3 linked regions of the Homo sapiens genome follow. The protein of the gene in region 3 interacts with the protein of the main gene of each other region in a pairwise test. Each region holds a gene or a part of one and is shown on either strand. Other genes may lie near its edges. The genes, in order: BRPF3, UNG and ACTR3.

Evidence for each region.
Region 1: the proteins of ACTR3 (region 3) and BRPF3 interact in binary tests that used the Homo sapiens proteins (3 or more experiments, as listed by UniProt).
Region 2: the proteins of ACTR3 (region 3) and UNG interact in binary tests that used the Homo sapiens proteins (3 or more experiments, as listed by UniProt).

What each region holds. Positions count from the first base shown.
Region 1 is NC_000006.12:36,191,905-36,199,743, reverse strand, and holds the start of BRPF3 (bromodomain and PHD finger-containing protein 3), read right to left. Parts: upstream 3,001-7,839; 5' UTR 2,774-3,000; exon of another isoform or gene 2,541-2,773; intron 2,360-2,540; exon of another isoform or gene 2,325-2,359; intron 1-2,324. UniProt on the Homo sapiens protein: Scaffold subunit of various histone acetyltransferase (HAT) complexes, such as the MOZ/MORF and HBO1 complexes, which have a histone H3 acetyltransferase activity.
Region 2 is NC_000012.12:109,107,480-109,111,538, reverse strand, and holds the end of UNG (uracil-DNA glycosylase), read right to left. Parts: intron 1,711-4,059; coding exon 1,570-1,710; 3' UTR 547-1,569; downstream 1-546. UniProt on the Homo sapiens protein: Uracil-DNA glycosylase that hydrolyzes the N-glycosidic bond between uracil and deoxyribose in single- and double-stranded DNA (ssDNA and dsDNA) to release a free uracil residue and form an abasic (apurinic/apyrimidinic; AP) site.
Region 3 is NC_000002.12:113,893,088-113,900,250, reverse strand, and holds part of ACTR3 (actin-related protein 3), read right to left. Parts: intron 1-7,163. UniProt on the Homo sapiens protein: ATP-binding component of the Arp2/3 complex, a multiprotein complex that mediates actin polymerization upon stimulation by nucleation-promoting factor (NPF).

The sequences.
Region 1 (7,839 bases), on a different chromosome or scaffold from region 3:
TGTAACATGGGGAAAGATCTAATGTTCTAATGATGTACATAAAGCTGGGCGACAGCTAACTATGGAAAACACATGTAGTTAACGGTTTAGAAAAGAAAACAAGAAAAGCATCCACTGTCAAGCTCTGTACGTGAACAATGGGCCCCATCAGAGGATCAAAAGTCACTAGAGTCTTCTCCCAATACCTCTTACCACGATCAGAAACCCTACTCCTTGACCCTGCCTAGAGGTGAAGGGGTGAAGGCATCTGAAATATCTATGATACATGGTCTAAGGGCTTCAAACTACAGTATGCAGGGTATTCCCTACAAAAGACACCATCCAGGACAGCAGTCCCCAGCCTTTTTGGCACCAGGGACTGGTTTCGTGGAAGACAATTTTTCCACAGATGAGGGTGGGTGGTGAACACTGTTCCACCTCAGATCATCAGGCATTAGTCAGATTCTCATAAGGAGCATGCAACCTAGATCCCTCACATGCGCAGTTCACAGTAGGGTTCGCGCTCCTATGAGAATCCAAAGCAGCCGCTGATCTGACAGGAGGCAGAGCTCAGGTGGTAATGCTCGCTTGCCCGCCACTCACCTCTTGCTGTATGGCCTGGTTCTTAACAGGCCACAGTCTGCGGCCTGGGGGTTGGGAACCCCTGATCCAGGATACACCAACTAGTACATTTCCAGGCAGAAACAAACCCTAGAAGCTCTGAGAGTGGCTCCAAGAGATCTCTGAAGTTATAGTGGCCTGTCTAGGACCTTCATTCGACCGAAGGCCAAGATGATCTGGGCAGTATCTGAGGTAAACTCTCAATGCATTCTGTTACCTCAAAAGTCTCTCCCAGAACACTCATATCTAGTCTATCCTTGTACAGCCAAGAGAAAGTCCTAGTTTCCCCCATCATTCTCTGGATGACAAGCTCATAAGGAGCTGCGGTAGGCAGTTACCAAGGCTGTCACCACCAGGAGAGACCTTTGGGGATACAGGGCCCCATGGTGTGGGCAGACTTGGAAGGATATGAACAAAGAGAAGATTTCAAAGAGAAAAACAATTCATCGCCTTGGTTGCAGGGTCTACCATCTATATAAAGTAGAGACGGTGATAATAAAAGCACTTTTTCCAAACTACAAAGCCCTCTTACTTTTAATATTTCTCACAACTACCTTAGGAGATGGTGTAGCTATTATCATCTACACAGAAGCTCAGAAAGATGTCACTCAACGTAAAGCTAGTAAGTGATAACGCTACAATTTGAACCCAGGTCTTCCGATGCTCAATTCCTCTCAGTGGGAATTAAGAACACCACAGAGGTGCTATGGTCTGGTACAAAACGAGGCTCTGGGGCAATCTAGGTTCTAATCTTGGCCCTCTGTGACCTAGAGAAAGTCCCTTAAGCTCTCTATGCCTCCATACTCCATCAGTAAAATGAGGGTAACACAATCTAGCTCTCTAGGTGCTACTTGTTAATAAGGTATTATTAACATCTTTACTTGAAAGGCCTTCCAATCCCAAAGTGTGACTGAAACAAACAAAAAACCAATTTGGCTGAGGAGCAGTGCCAGGCGGGCTGGCACACACCCCATTTGGAGCCAAAGGAAACAGAATCATCGCAGCAATTCTGTCCGGGTTCCAGAGGCCCTTGGCTACTGGATTCCTTACAAATGCCAAGTCCCTGGGGGCAGACAGGGCCAACAGACCTGCTTCATCACCCACCCCTCCAAAGGCACCGAGGCCCTAGAAGAGGTGAGAACATCTGCCTCCACACCGACCCCAAACAGCGCAGACAGGCGGTGCGGCGCCCACTTTCATGAAAGCCGCTCCATCTTCTCCTTCCCCACCTGCCACCTCCTCGGCTGCTCAAGCATCTCTCGACCATGCAAGACTCTACACAGACGTGTTTTGTCCCACCCACGCCTCCAGACACCGGGGAGAAACTCTAGAGGGGGAAGGGACTGCTGATGAGGGAAATGAAAAGAGTTTCGCCCACAAGGAGCTTACAGTCTAGACGAGTTTTTTGGCGGGAGTTTCTCAACCTACACAGCCCTTCCCACATACACACCTCCAAAATATCTCCAACAACCCCCGCCCCCCCAGATTTCCCCTCGGCACCCCCTGACCCCTCGCTCACCCACCCCATCCAGGTCCCCGAAGAATGAGGAGCTTCTGCAATTAGACTGTATCCCCTGCACCTCACACAAGATACTCAGGAGACAAGGAGGACCCCAGCCAAGGCTCCTGCTCCTTTAAGGGGGCACCTCTTCCAGAAGAATCTTGACCCCTCGGAGAAGAAAGGAGGGAAATAACATCTCCTCAGAGGGGAGGGGCGAGCGCACCAGAGACAGCCTGACGTGGAGTCCGACCCTCAGACAGAGAAAGCGAGCGCCAGCGAATGAGCGGGGCGGAGAGGCGAGAACCCATTGGCTGCGTCACCTGCCCGTCAGAGGGACCCAGGGGACCTAGGGCCGCTCAAGGGGCGGGACTCTCGTCTGGCCAGGCCAATTGGAAGGCGTGGCGGGGGCGGGGCTTAGCGGCTCGGAATCCAGGGCTGGGGGGGGAGACAAGATGGCGGCTGCGGGAGGGGGTCCTCGCTTCTCAGCTCCCCCGCTCACCCGCCTTCTCCTTCCCTGCCGCCGCCCTCGCTCCAGGAGAGAGCTTTCGCACCGCCCCCGCCCTGCTCGGAAAGCCCCCCGCTTCTCCGGTTTCCCCCCGTGCAGTCCCTGGTCCCCGAAGGCCCCGATGCCCCCGCCCCCGCTCTGTCCGGCCCCGCTGCCGCCCCCATTACCTCAGCCGCCTGCCCGGCCCCACCGTTCGGGGCCCCTGGGCGCGGGCGGGCAGGCCGCCGAGCAGGTCGGCGCGGCCCGGGAAGCGGAGCGCGGTCTTCTCCCGCGCCTGCCTCCGTGGCCTCCGCCGTGCCCCCTCCCGGCCCGCGCTGGGGCCCCGGCCCGGCCGCCGCCGCCGCTCCCGGGGGAGGAGGGGGAATGGAGCCGCCGCTGCTGCCGCTGCCGCCACGGAGCCCGGCCGAGGGGAGGGAGGGATCAGCCCCCAGGCAGGATCCGCCCCTCCGGCCTCCCCCCGCCACCTCCACCCCTTCCCTCGCTCCCTCCCTGACTCTGCGGGCTCTCCCGCTGAACAGGAGCGAGAGCGCGAAAGAGGGGGAAACGGGAAAAAAATCCCCCCGCCCGTGCCTGGCGCGGCGGCGGCCGGGGCGGTGCGGAGAGGAGCGCGGAGGCGCCGCCGCCGCCGCCACGGGGCACCATCCCCGGCTCGGCCTCACGGTGGCGGTGCGGGCGCGGCGGGGACACCGAGCAAGAGACCGGGTCTGCGCCCGCCGCGATCCCTGCGCACCACGGCCCTGCCCGCCACGGGGCGAGCCCGATAAGAGGGCTGTGGACGTTCGGGTCTAGTTGGGAGAGACAGGGGTCCCTGACTCTTGAGCGGTCAGTCATTTCCTCCCCAGTCCTTGTGGGTGACGTGGCTACGGTTTGGAGCAGCAAGCCCCCTCCCCGAACTAAAGGGCCTCTCCAAAGGTTAAGCCAGGGCAGTCATTGAGGTCAAAACCAATATGTAGTTTCTTGACTGCAGGTGCCTGCACGACTCCCAGAAAGTCGCGTCTCCCCTAACCCCCATGCCCAGGACCTGAGGACAAAGGTCTAGCGATTGTCCATCCCCTCCCCCAGTGAGGACAGCCGGGAAAGACCTGCCTTTGTTGTGTACAGGTGAGCGTCTTGTTCCGCACCACACATCTTTTAAAAAAAAAAAAAAAAAATCTGACTTTCCGTTTAAAAGGAGTAAACAAAAGTTTGACAGTCTGCTTAAGCATGCCTGGTAACTCGTCTGTCACTGTGGGCATGGGAAACACTTTAAACCTGACTTGGTTAATTTAATGCATTAGGCGGCTTTCTAAAAGATGCTTGACAAATGGCAGCATCAGACCAAACTGGCTTTTGTTTTGATCTAAAAAAACAAAAAAATAAAGAAAAGGGCTCCATTGCCACCCCCTTTTGCCTGTAAACTGGAAAGCTTACCTCATGTGACTGAAGTCTTAAGCACCAATACATAATGATGTTTATAAAGGACGTATGGATAAGCTGCCTGTAAATGTGAAGGTGAGTGACAGTTTGAAAGTGTTTCCTCTGCTGGCACTTGTGGTGTAGCTGGTGAGACTCAATTTCTTTCTTGGTTCTGATGATCAAGGACATGTATTCTAGAGTCAGAAGGATGAAGGATAAAGTCTTAGGATCCAAATTTTCTGAATGTTTAAAGTGAACATACTGCTACTTTGGAAGTATAGATGTTATACTAAGGAATTTAAATATAGAGAGTTTCAAATTCAAAAGTTTGATTAAGGAAGCTAATTTGTTTCCAAGTAAATAGCATCTTCTGGCAAAGAGATAGTACAAAAATGCTTCTGTTAACCAATTTTTTAAATGCAAGGGGGGTGGCTCGTGGAGCTAAGCAAGGGCAGGACAATGTTTTGAAAGCTGTGAAGATGAAATAGTATGAATTAATGTCAAGTGTTCTGAAGCTAGGGGGAATAATCATTTGGAGGGAAGGTGTGGAAGAAAAAGATGATTAATTGTGGAAGAGAAAGCCCCAGAGGCAAGAAAATATTGCAATTACAGTACTTGTAGTTAAGAAAAAAAAAGTCTGAAAACTAACAGAAACTATTAAAACATGAAATATAATAATCATTTATACATATGACTAGTAACTTTTATTTCTTGATGGATGTTCTCAAAATTTATTTAGCACAATTCCCATTTGCGTGATCAGGAGCTATCTTTTTCCACTAAAATGAATGAATAAATACCTTGAGAAAATGCATTGGTTTCTACTTGTAAGTCAACGATTTAAATGCTGTTGAAAAGGCCTTAAGTCAACCTAATGCATGTGATTTTTTTCAGGTTTTTCTATTCAAAGCTTTCATATTAAGACCTTATTCAACCTAAGTGTTTCTCTTCCATTTTCAACTTCTACTTTTTTAATGATATCATTACAGTTGCCCTCACTTTAATTTTTGACATTTGGAATTGGTTTCTACAAGCATAACTGCACACGTAACCAGTTCCCTGTGATGGAATCTTAAATGTAACATGGAACAATTATGTTATTAAAAACAAATTTGGAACATATATCAAAAATCTCAGAGGCACTAAATTTAATTCACTTTAATCGTTTGCTATTTTAAACGGTTTAAATTCACCACCCCTGGCCTTTCCAATAAACCATACAGCAATTAAATTCAACAAACAGAGGCATGGATCTTTGATTCCAAATAGTTGTTTTTAAGAACCTTCCAGCTGTAAGTAGAAACCAACTTATTTGGGATAGGAGAAGGTTTTACCATTTAAAACTAAAAGAAACATGAATACAAAAAAAAATCACCATTTCCCCACCTCTTTCTTTCATACTTCCCCATCATACTTTTTTTCAGCATCTCAGGATATCTTTGTTAATGCTTCACTATTGTCATTAGTTTATCAGGCCAAGAAACCTCTCAGGGGTCAGACGCAGTACCCACTGGATTAATAACGTGGATGATAAGGAAAAAAATAGGCCTTGATTGATTGTTAAATTATTTTTAATAGAATATTCCTTCCTTAGATACTTGACTAAAAGAATTCTGAAACCACAGTTGGGAGGAATGTTTGAGGTTGGAATCATTGTGATACTTTTTTTTTTTTTTTTTTTTTTTTTGAGACGGAGTCTTGCTCTGTCGCCCAGGCTGGAGTGCAGTGGCGGGATCTCGGCTCACTGCAAGCTCCGCCTCCCGGGTTCAAGCCATTCTCCTGCCTCAGCCTCCCAAGTAGCTGGGACTACAGGCGCCCGCCACTACGCCCAGCTAATTTTTTGTATTTTTAGTAGAGACGGGGTTTCACCGTTTTAGCCGGGATGGTCTCGATCTCCTGACCTCGTGATCCGCCCGCCTCGGCCTCCCAAAGTGCTGGGATTACAGGCGTGAGCCACCGCGCCCGGCCGATACTTTTACACTAATTAAAATGGTTTAAGAATGTAAAGTTTGCTTGGAAAATGGGAAAAGTTTAGCTAGGTTAACAACAGGTCTTAAATAGAGTAACATACCACACTCTCTAGATTTAATTCCATTTATGTATTTCTAAAACGTATTCATTGACCACTTAGAGTGTGTCTAATACTGCACAAGTTCTTTGGAAAATAATGACAAAATCTCAACCTAGAAAGGGACTAATGATCATAAGTATAGATAGAATATATTTTTTCTTGCCTTGAGTAGTGTGCAATCCAGAATGGTAGAAATAAGTAGAAAACACATACAAGAAAAAATAGATAAGGCAGTGAAGAGTATGGAGCCACCATTATTCAAAGAAGGCTTCTTGGAGAATGGGAGACTTCTTTAAGCCAAGTTCTAAATCATGATGGATGTGAACTGGTGAAAAGAGTGTAAAGTGACATTGGGTTGGTGACAGGACAGTCCAGGCAAAGGGAAAATATGCAGGGAATAATGCGGAAATTATCCTAGCTGGTATGTATGGGCAGATGATAAGAAAAAGATTGAATTGGGTAGGAGGTATGGCAAGGGGACAGGGATAATAAAAATAATACCTAACACTTATGTACAAGGTACTGTGCTTAGTGCTTTATATACTCCATTTATTAAAGATCTTTGTTGCAGTTAGCAGAAAACCAACTTAAGTGAGTTTAATAAAGGAAATAAACTCTCATAACCAGAAAGTCCAGGGGTGCATCTAGCTATAGACAAGATCGAGTCAAAGGACTCGAATTATGTCATCAGCATACTGTATCTTGCAATTTCTCAGCCATCCTGAGCCAATAACTGTGGCCAGAGGGACATGCTGCTTGTCATGTATCAACTCCTAAAACCAGAGGACATGAGCAGGAGAAGATTGTACAATGGGGTAGTAGGTACATGTACAAACTAGGTCCAATATGCACACCATATCTTATTTATCAACTTACTAACTCTATAAAATGTTACTGTTATCCTCTTTATGTATTGGAGAAAGTAGAACAGGAGATCCGGTAAACCTGGAAGAGTTTACTATAGGTAATTAGGCATTATGAAAATAAAAAGGCATTAAGCAGAATGATGGAAAATGTGTTAGAGAAAGAGGAAAAGGAAAGGTCAAATCAGAAATCAGATGACAAAGCAACTGTTTTGTCTGATTGGACATAAGAACAAAGGAGAAGATTGAAGAAGAATCTAAGTTCAAACTTTGTAGGTTCTCACAGTTTGGTACAATCATTGCAAATTAAGAGGTGGCAAAGGGTTGCTCGGGAGCTCCTATTGGAGGTGGGAACCTGAGGATTGAAGAAATGATGAAATCAGCTCAAGTTCTCTGGAACCTCTTTTGGTCACACTGAAATACATATTTATTCAATTACTATTTGTGAGCTGCTGGTAAGGTTCTATTTTATGGCTGTAAAGGCCACAAAGGTGAAAAGAGTATGCTTGCAGACTTGAAGGCATTTAGATTCTAATCACAGTATAAAGCAAGGGTATTTATAACTGGAACGTGCTACAATATAAGCACTTCAAGAGAGATGCAAACGAAGTGCCAAAGTTTGGAGGAGGGAGTGAGCTCGTCTGTTTAGGAGAAGAGGGAAGGCTCTGTGAAGAAAGTGCTATCTGAGCTCTACCTGAAAGCTCTCAGGTAGGTGTGTCAGCTAGAAAGATGGTAGAGGGAGTGTGGTCCAGGCTGAGCCACCCGCATGAGCAAAGAGGAAGAACGTATCAAAGAATAAAATTTCAACAAATGAGTCCCAAAGATCCAATTGGCTTTATTAGCTGTTTATGAACTGGGCAACATCCAGTCTACAAAATAGAAAGGAGTTCCTATGAGCTAAACA
Region 2 (4,059 bases), on a different chromosome or scaffold from region 3:
CACAATTGTGGCTTCTTTCTTCGGACACTGGGGGATCCCACAGATCATCCTGACAGCCCCCACTACCTGAGCCTGGGCTGCGGGCCAGTGCGTCATCAGGGAGTCTTCCTGGAGCCCTGGCCTCACTTCCGAGTTCCAGATGTCTCGGAGTCTAGAAACACTGGCTGAGCGGGGGATGCAGGCGGCTCCCCTCCAACGTCACAGGGCTTGGCAGAACGTAGCCACGACGGGCACGCCATGTTCCCCGAAGAAATGCCTTCCTCAGGCCGTTAGTTACCCCTCTGGGGTCTCAGCTGGCAGCCGGTGCTCCACGGTGCTCGGAGTTGGGGCGCTGCTCCAGGCCGGGGGTTGGGCCCAGCGCTCACCGCAGCCAGGGGAGGGTTGGGCCGTTCCACTGAGCGGCAGGGCGGGGAGGAGGGGCAAGGGCGGCCCCTCCTGCAGACGGTGGTTGCTATGGGAACCCTGGGAGGCGCCAAGGGAAAGGGCAGCCCAAGGACGTCCATGGATGCCCTGGCCTGGACGCACAAAGGACACTTGCACAAAACAAACTTTTAACAAACTTTTATTAACAAACCTCGCGTAGAGCCAACTCTAACCCGACTAACAGCAAAAACAGCATTGCTAACAAGATCAAGGATGGAGGTGCAGACCCAATAAAGACCGTCTCTTAAAAAAAGGACTGGGAAAAATATATATATATATATCTGCATGAGTACTTCTTAAAAAACTAAAACTTTCCAGTGTTGCAGGAAAAAATATCCCAAAGTGATTTCAGTCGGTTAAAAAAAACAGTACTTGGCAGTCTGTGCTGCCTTAAAAACCCCAACTGGACATAACCCTAGGAGAAAATCACCCCACCCCATAAAGACAAAATTCCCTTTTCTCCTCTTCCTTGTTCAAATTCCACTGCTTATTCCACCAACACCCAAGGAATAACAAGACCCAGCTTACTTCTCTCGGTCTCTTATCTGATAAAGCTCACAGCAATCTTAACCTCTACTACAATCAGGAAATTGAGCCCTAATTTCTGGGCCAGATTCTGGAAAGTTGCAAAACATCCTTATGCTGCGAGGGGCCTGAGGACTCCTTCAAAGATCAAGGGGGCAGTGGAACTGGCAGAGACTGGCATGCCTGCCCTGCAAGGCTGAGACAAGGGGACCTTTCTAAGCAAAAACACCCCAACATCTGTCACTGAAAGTCTAACCAGGCAAAACCAAGGAGCAGCAGGCGCCAAACTAGGGCTGTGCCTGAAAGGTGCACATCTCCCCTGTTTCACCATAAAGGCAAGGGAGATAAAGAGAGCCAACTGAGTATTTGACCTCATCTGTCTTCTGCATATTTTAGGCCGAAGCCATGTTGCAGAGAAAGACATTTGGTCAAAGGGTAGCCTTTGTTGTTTGTGGTTGGATACAGCTGCCATTCCTGGACAGCCTGGTTCATGGCTGCTTTCTGGAAGCTTTTCCCCCTTATGCAGAGTACTTAAGAATTAATAGGAAAATTTTCAGTGGAACTTCGTAACTGGCAAATACGTTAACAGCAGCTTCTCAAAGGCCACCCCTCAGCTGATGATCACAGCTCCTTCCAGTCAATGGGCTTCTTGCCAGACTTCTGCAGCAGCTCATTGGTCTTTGAAAAGTGTCTACATCCAAAGAACCCTCTATACACTGACAAAGGGGAGGGATGAGCCGTCTGTAGTACATGGTGCCGCTTCTGAAAAAGATCAAGAATAAATGGTGGCAGATTTGGGACTTTTTAAATTTTTTTTTTTTTTTTTTGAGACAGAGTCTTGCTGCAGTGGCGTGATCTCGACTCACTGCAACCTCCGCCTCCCGGGTTCAAGCGATTCTCCTGCCTCAGCTTCCCAAGTAGCTGGGACTACAGGCGCGTGCCACCACACCCAGCTAATTTTTGTATTTTTAGTAGAGATGGGGTTTCATCATATTGGCCAGGATGGTCTCGATCTCTTGACCTCGTGATCCGCTCGCCTTGGCCTCCCCAAAGTGCTGGGATTACAGGCGTGAACCACCATGCCCGGCCGGGACTTTTTTTTTTTTTCCCCAAAAAGGAAGGACTGTGGCTGTTGCACTTTAAGACCCTGTGCGATTCCCCTTTGCCCTCTAAATTCTCCCCCTTCCAAAGTGGAGCATTCAGCATTTGCATTAGAACATTAGTCCGTTTGTTGAGCAACTACCTACCTTTGCTAGGCTCTGAGATGCAAAGAGCACCACCCTCTGCCTTCAAGTTGGCAATTATCTATGCAATTTTCAAGTGTCCCTATCATACTGCCAGCAATTTCCACTGCTAAGACTGTATTTGCTAAAGGACACCATGATGCATACACACACAGATAAACTCCTCAACTTATTAACACAATGGATGGGGTTAACATCTTGGAAAACCCATCCTAAGTAGAAAATATCCTAAGTTGAAGATATATTTATGACATATAACCTGCTGAACATCATAGCTTAACCTACCCTACCTTAAACATGCTCAGAACACCTACATTAGCCTACAGCTGGGCAAAACAAAGCTTCTTTTACAATGAAGTGTTTAGTACCTCATGTAACTCATTGAACACTGTACTGAAAGTGAAAAATAGAACGGGGCCAGTCACGGTGGCTTACACCTGTAATCCCAGTGCTTTGGGAGGCCAAGGTAGGACAACTGCATGGGACCAAGAGTTTACAACCAACTGAGGCAACATAGCGAGACCCCATCTCTACAAAAAAATTAAAAAGTTAGCCAAGTGTGATGGCATGCACCTGCAGTCCTAGCTACACAGAAGACTGAGGTGGCAGGATCACTTGAGCCCAGGAGTTCGAGGCTGCAAAAAGCTATAATTGTGCCACTGCACTCCAGCCTGGGTGACAGAGCAAGATCTTTTTTTTTAATTTTTTATTTTTTGAGATGGGGTCTTACTCTGTCACCCAGGCTAGAGTGTAGTGGCATGACTGTGGCCCACTGTAGCCTCCACCTCCTAGGCTCAAGTTACTCTCCCACCTCAGCCTCCTGAGTACCTGGGACCACAGGTGCGTGCCACTACACCAGGCTAATTTTTTGTGTTTTTTAGAGACAAGGTCTCACTATGTTGCCCAGGCTGTTCTCAAACCCCTGAGCTCAAGTGATCCGCCACCCTGGCCTCTCAAAGTGTTGGGATTACAGGCGTGAGCCACTGCTCCCAGCCAAGAGACCCTGTCTCTTAAAGAAAGAAAAAAAAACAACGTGTGAGTGCTCAAAGTATGGTTATACACCATTGTAAAGTCGAAAAAAATCAGGTCAAACTTCATAAGCCAGGGACCAGTTGTACCTACACAAATAGGTACATATAAAGGGACTGACACACTGCTTATGTCAGCTAAAACCTAGTATACAATTCAGTGTTACAGAACTGGCTAAATGTATTTTTCTAAAGTTCTTACAATGTAAAACCACATAACTCCTAGAAAAACATGCGAAAGATAAATATACTGATGAGATGACCTCCAAAATTTACCAAGTGAACAAAATGCAAAATAATTTCATTTTTTAAAAACTTTAGAAAAATACCCAAGACACTGTATTTAGTAGTTCCTTTAAGAGAAAGAGTGGAAGCCATTTACTTTCCATTTTGTGCCTTTCTGAACTCTCTGAATAGTCTTACAGCTCCTAAGAAGGAAGAATTAAAAAACAAAAACAAAAACAAAAAAATCTCGCCACAAAAATGGAATAGTTGGCCGGGCGTGGTGGCTCACACCTGTAATCCCAGCACTTTGGGAGGCTGAGGTAGGTGGATCACCTGAGGTCAGGAGTTCAAGACCAGCCTGACCAACATGAAGAAACTCCGTCTCTACTAAAAATACAAAATTAGCTGGATGTGGTGGTACATGCCTGTAATCCCAGCTACTCAGGAGGCTGAGGCAGGAGAATCACTTGAACCCAGGAGGGGGAGGCTGCAGTGAACTGAGATCACGCCATTGCACTCCAGCCTGGGCAACAAGAGTGAAACTGTCTCAGAAAAAAAAAAAAAAAAAAAAAAAAGAGGAATAGTCAGTGGCCAGGTGTGGTAGCTCACGCCTG
Region 3 (7,163 bases):
GTCATGAAAATGTTCTAAAATTGATTGGATTCCAATAAGTGGCATCCAGGCATTAAAAAAAAATGAAATTGACTGGAAATAGTTGCACAACCTTGTGACTATACTAAAAACTACTCAATTACACACTTTAAAAGAGTAAACTTTACAGTATGTGAATTATAACTCAATAAAGCTGTATAAAGTAAAATACTAGACCCAGACTAATAGTGCATAAATTTACCTTTTATCACTCTTTTGCTTAATGATCTACACAATCCACTACTGTCTATCAAATAAATCGCAAACCATTCTGCCCCATTTAAAATCCTTCTGAAATAAGGCAAGATGAGTAAATAAACTACTTGCTGTCCCACAGCTCCCAACAGAAATATCTGAATTCCAGGCAGGGCAATTTCCTAACTGACCCATCCCCCAAATACTTTGAAACTCCTTCATGACTTCCCTTTATCAGTAAAATATTTGCTGGGCATTATTAAATATCATGCAGGACGCTATCACTTGAATAGAGAATGCACAAAAAAGAAATAATCCCTGCCACTATGGAGCTTTCAATTTAGCTCACATCCTAGATTTGAAGTCCTTCTTCCCATATATCTATCACATCCTATTTATGCTTTTCCAAGGATCTGATCAAGTTCAGCTTCTTCATAAATCATCCTCCAAATACTACAGCCCTTATTAATCTGCCCAAACAATTAAATGCTAGTAAGCCATCCATAATTATTTCACACATATTAGTTTCATCTTTGAAACTAAACTGTAAACCTCAAGTATAAAATCATGCCTTAGTTTTCTTGTATATACCATAGTGTTCAGCACAGAACTGAGACTGAAATAAATACTTGATTACTTTAAGTTCTTCTATTTTTTTACTTTCATATGTGTTTTGTGCAGTCATTAATGAGCACATAATACATAGTGAGTAAAATAATTACAGTAAGTAATGCATCAGTGGAGATTATTCATTTTCAAATTGCAGCTTCAGAAATATGTATGCCTTCCTTTTGAAGATATATGTAATTAGCATCATTTCCTTGAGCTGCCCTGAATTTATCAGCAATTATCAGTCCTTGCAATACTCAAATAAGCAGTAAGCAAATCCATATTTCACTTTAATGTGTTATAGGTTAATCAAATCAGTGAACTGGTCACTAAGACCTCCCTATATGTTTCATATTTGTACTAAAAATTAGTAGCTTTGGGTTTAAGTATGTATAAAATGGACACTCTTAAAAACTGGACTAATAATTTGACCACTCTCCTTGGATGTATCTCAATTAGGGAACAGTAGAGCAGTGAGCTCTGGAATGAGACTACCCCAGGACTAAAATTCTAAATCTACTACTTATCTTTGAAATGGGATTATTTATAACAGTAACTACCTCACAGGGCTTCTGAAAAGGTAATAACATCCAAAACAAAACGTGCAAAGGGCCTTGAAATGGCTGATTGGTACACATCCCATTTAATACATCTTTAATAATTAAAATCCAAAGATATAAATCTCTGAAACCATAAAGAAAAATTTTTTTAAAGAGAGCATTCATTTTATGAAAGTCATCTGTCCTGGCACCTACAGAGCACAACTTTTAAAATATCTCTAAACTTGGTTTAAAACATTATTATTGGGAAACATAAAATTAGTTTCTCATGTGTGCCATACAGTATGCCTCTGCATTACAACGAAACACTGAAGAATTCTGATGTAGGCTTCAACTAAAACTACTTTAACTATAAATAAAATACATTATGTTATTCCAATTACTTAATTTCAACTATTAACTCATAAATGTGAACTCACAAGAAAATTTAAGAGAACTCAACAATACTATCAATTAATAATTAGGAACACTCCCAAAAGACATTTCTCAACTCTGAGCCTCTGTTTCATTTGTAAATGAAGACTGGATTAAATTATCTCTCAAAATCCCTTTTCAGCTCTATAATTCTGTGTGAGTCATTAGGCATTTCCCTTAATTTACTAAAGCAAGTTTCACAAATACACATTAAATGCTATATTTGTACCCTTGAGTAACTGAATTTTAAAAATGCTTATAGCAGAAGCACACTAGATTTAACTAAAATAATCTCTATAACTAGGCAAACACTTGTGTCCTGTCATACACTAATACTAAAAACATGGTTTACATGTTTACAGTAGATTAAGCCAACCCTAAACTACAAGGTCTTCTGCACCCTAATTCTCTCTCTAGGACTTTTATCCTCCTCATTGTAACCTCTCCTTTACACTAAATACTGAAAAGCACAGAAACCCTTCCCAAGAGCATTGCATTTTCACAAATGACACAAAGTCTTAAAGCAAGGACAAAATGTTTAAAAATAAAACGTTTAGGTAATGTCCTTCGGCAGGAGGAAAACATGGCATGTTGAGTATCCGAACAGATGAATATTCTTCTCAGGTATGTATTAGGGTTGGGGAGCAGAAGGAAAGCTGAAAGAATACATCTGGCCGAGACGGGTGGATCACTTGAGTTCAGGAGTTCAATATCAGCCTGGCCAATATGGTGAAACCCGGTCTCTACTAAAAACACAAAAATTAGCCAGGCATCGTGGCGGGTGCCTATAATTCCAGCTACTCGGGAGGCTGAGGCAGAAGAATAGCTTGAACCCTGGAGACGGAGGTTTCAGCAAGCCAAGATCACGCCACTGCACTCTAGCCTGGGTGACAGAGCAACACTCTGCCTCAAAAAAAAAAAAAAAAAAAAAAAAAATAACATCTGGCCACACAAATTCAAGCTATTCCTTTCCTGGTTCCAAGGAGTATGTAAGAATGGCTTGAGTTTAAATCGACAGTTTGGAAAGAATTTTGAAAATTCTGAAACAAAATTATTATTAAAATTCTGCAAAATCGTCCTTTAAAAAAACTAGAATTTTTTTTCTTTTTTTTGCTCTGGTATTAGTCAATTATGTAGGTTACGTTGTTTCCTGATATAAAGGCCCATATAAAGTTATAAAATCAGCACACAAACTAATATTAGTCACTATCCTATTTCAAAGAACTAAATTTAAAACAATCCAATAACATCACCTTATCTCCTATCTAATAATTCATAAATGTCGTGTTTGGTAAGCTACAGCACACATTTTTGTAGTGCTATTATTACTTAATTGCTTTGCTCTTGCTTCTTTATGCTACTGTCTATCACTGATTATGGTTGTGTCATAAAAAAGGCAACAAGCTCCAACAGAATTACAAGGGAGCATTCAAATGCTTTTTTTATTATAGTGGAATTTTGTTTCAGGAAACACATGTTGCTACATTTTAACCATTCCAAACTTCTGCTCCTAGTCCAATCCTTTAGCTGTTTCCACAAGTTGGGGGAGCAGGAGCATGCTGGACAAGGGAAATTTAGCTAGAGCTAAACTCTCCTCCTGATTAAGGATTTTGCCTCTTAGAAAATTGAATGACATAGGTGGAGATAAGATTGTCAGCATAGCGATCAATTACCACGAGCCAATCAGTCACTGTGATGCTCAAGAAGCTAGATCACATATCCACAATTTTTTTAAAGAAGGGAAACTGATATTCAATCTTTCCGTTCTTTTCTCTCTGAATGCTCTCATCTTATTAGCTTCAGTTAACAAATTATGATTCCCAAATATCCACCTTCATTCCCAAAGGTCCTGTATTTTTAATTTCCTCTAGAATGTTTCCAATTATAAATCATCATTCCAAATTCAACAACAAATTCCAATTTTACTCAGTTTCTTAAAACTAACTCCCTTATTGTCCCAATCACTCAGGCTTACAATCTTGAACTATTCATTGATGCCTATTTACAATCCACTGGAATCAACTGCCAAGTCCTAGCTATACCTCCTTCAATCTCTCAAATCAGCAAAAACATTTTGACTGTGCAGAGAACTGTGTGTGGTAGGCAGGCCAAGGCCTGCAGGAGATAAGAAAATAAGCATAACACACTGTATTCCTTTCTTTAAGAACTGAAACTCAAAAAAAAAAGAAAGCCAACCAATTATTATATTTAAAATATATTGTGCCCTTACTGTGTGCCAGGCACTGTGCTGAACCATTTTCACACATTATCAAAAAACAGAACAAAACAAAACAAAACTGGGCATGGTGGCTCACTCCTGTAATCTCAACACTTTAAGAGGTCAGGGCAAGAGGATTACTTGTGCTAGAAGTTTGAGACCAGCCTGAGGCAACACAGTGAGACCCCATCTCTACAAAAAATTTTTAAAAGTAGCCACACATGGTGGCATGTGCCTGTAGTCCCAGCTACTCGGGGGACTGAGGCAGGAAGACAGCTTGAACATAGGAGTTTGAGGATGCAGTGAGCCATGATCTTGCCATTGAACTCCAGTTTGGGCAACAGAGACCCAGTCTCAAAAACAAACAAAAAAAACCTATAAGGTATACACTATCATCTCCAAATTACAGATGGGAAGAAATAAGACCTGCAGAGGTTGAAGTGTATAAAGTCATATAGCTATTAAGTGATAGAGCTTGAACTCAACAACAGATAACTACAAAGCCTTTGCTACCCGTAAATAAAATAACACGAAATATAACTGCCAGAAGAAACGTAAAAAGAAAGGAAAAAACCAATCTTTTCCTAACTTATCTCTTCTGCTCCAACTCCACCGCCAATACCAGGTTTCAGAATTTCTGCAAAGTTAGCCCTTGAATGGGCTGCTGAAGAATCATCTAGGAAGCCTATGTAAATGAATATTCATAGTCCAACCCTTGAGATTCTGAGTCACTGGGTATGGGGTGTTTCTGATGCACAGTTTTTTTAAAAACCATACTCCTAATTCTTGTTCATTCATTCATACAACAAAGATTTGAATTCCTACTATGCACCAAGCCATGTCAAACGTTCATCTTCTACGGAAGGAAGATCTAGTGTAGTGGCTCTGCCATACTTACTTGCTACAGTATCTTGGGTAAGTAGCTTAACCTCTCTTAAGACTAAATTTTCTAGCCTATAAAACAAAGATAATACTTTCCAGGTTGTTGTGAAAGTTAATGAGATAATATAAAGCATTTAGCACAGGGGCTGACATACAATTCTCGATAAATGCTAGCTATTATTATTTCCTGAGAAACACAACCTAGAGAGTAATTTTTTTCTAGAGATTAAATTTAAGCAAAGTAACAAGGAAATAGTCTAGGCATTCACATATCGGCAGGGGGGTGGGGGGGGGGAACCTAAACCAAGTAAAGATTACACAGAGGGTTTTCTCTAATTAGGTGAATCAAATTCATAAGGCTGAGATTTTTTTTTGTAAGAGTTCTTTAAACAGAAATACAGTTAACTTTACTAACAACAATGAAGCAACACATAAAGTTCTGAAAAGGCAGTCAGGAGTCCCCGGAGTGTTAACAGAAAGAACACAGGACTTAAATACAGAACTCAGGTCCAAATAGCAGATCGAACCACCTGCCAGGTAGACGGCATCAAAAAGGTAATTTAAATTCTCTCATTCTGTTTTTTCACTTATAAAATTAGGTTAAAAAATAGCTGTCACAGAAAGCATGGCCAGCAGGTCCTCCACAGGACCTTTCCGTTCTGTGCCTAAAATTCTGAACTGTGTTTTACAATAAGCCTGAAAGTTCGTTCACCGCAATATAGTATTTGCAATCCAAAGTCAATATTTCAACACAAAATTGGCAGGCAGGAAAGGAGGGAGAGTCTTTCGCTAAGTCTAAGTAAGAGTCTGACTTCTCACTAGGAGCATGTCTGTTGTACTTACTTCAAACAGCATGCAAAGCATGACTCATCAAGGAATAAGAATTTCAATGAGTGCTTTTTGGTTAAGAAGCTATTGTGAATATTTCTGCCTTTGGAGATGGCTAAAGAAATAGCATTATTAAGCCGGTGCAGTGGCTCATGTCTGTAATCCCAGCACTCTGGGAGGATGAGGTGGGTGGATCACCTGAGGTCAGGAGTTCAACAACAGCCTGGCCAACATGGTGAAACTCTGTCTCTACTAAAAATACAAAATTTAGCTGGGCGTGGTAGTGGGCGCCTATAATCCCAGCTACTTGGGAGGCTGAGGCAGAAAATCACCTGAACCCAGGAGGCAGAAGGAGGTTGCAGTGAGCCAAGATCATGCCACTGCACTCCAGCCTGGGCGATGAGAGCAAAACTCCATCTCAAAAAAAAAAAAAGAAACAGCATTATTATTAAACAATACGCACAGAATTCATGGAAGAAACATGAACTTCCCACATATACCTTCCTTCATTTACCCAGCTTTTCCCCACTGCTCTTCAAACAAGATCATTCTTATCTGCACTAATTGCTGAATTGTGGCCACAAGATGAACATACTCCTCTTTCACTGACACCTACAAGATATTTAAGCTTACATTTTAAGATTGCTAAGAAGTTGAAGTCAGTTAGCAAAATTCCTTAATCTGCTCCAGATATGAATATATCCAAGACTTTGACCATAGGGCTATATTAACCTCTGCTATCATAATCAGTGGAACTAATTTACCAATATTTTATTTACCAGGGGAAAAAAAAAGACATAAAAGGGAAAAGGAAATTCACAATGCAGCTCTGTAACCAAGCTACGATATAACAAGGAGTTAATAAGGAGCGCCCTCATTTGGCTTGAATGATGGAGAAACTTGAGTAAAAACATGCATTTAAAAAAAACCTTTAAGGCTGGGCGCGGTGGCTCACACCTGTAATCCCAGCACTTTGGGAGGTTGAGGCGGGTGGATCACGAGGTCAGGAGATGGAGACCATCCTGGTCAACATGGTGAAACCCCATCTCTACTAAAAAGAGAAAAATTAACTGGGTGTGGTGGCATGTGCCTGTAGTCCCAGCTACTCGGGAGGCTGAGGCAGGAGAATAGCTTGAACCTGGGAGGTGGAGGTTGCAGTGAGCCGAGATCGTGCCACTGCACTCCAGCCCAGCGACAGGGCAAGACTCCATCTCAAAACAAACAAACAAACAAACAAAAAAACAAAAAGCAAAAAACACATTTAAAAAACGATCCCTTCCACCGCCCAGAAAAAAAAAAACCTTAGGATGATCATACAAGTGTTACAATGTTTTTTTAAAAAATGTTTGTGAATGCCTTTTAAAGAAAATGCTTTTCTCACCACTAATAGCAGGTTTGAGTTCTGTTATTTAGTTTTCAAGCCACCAATGGGAATCTAT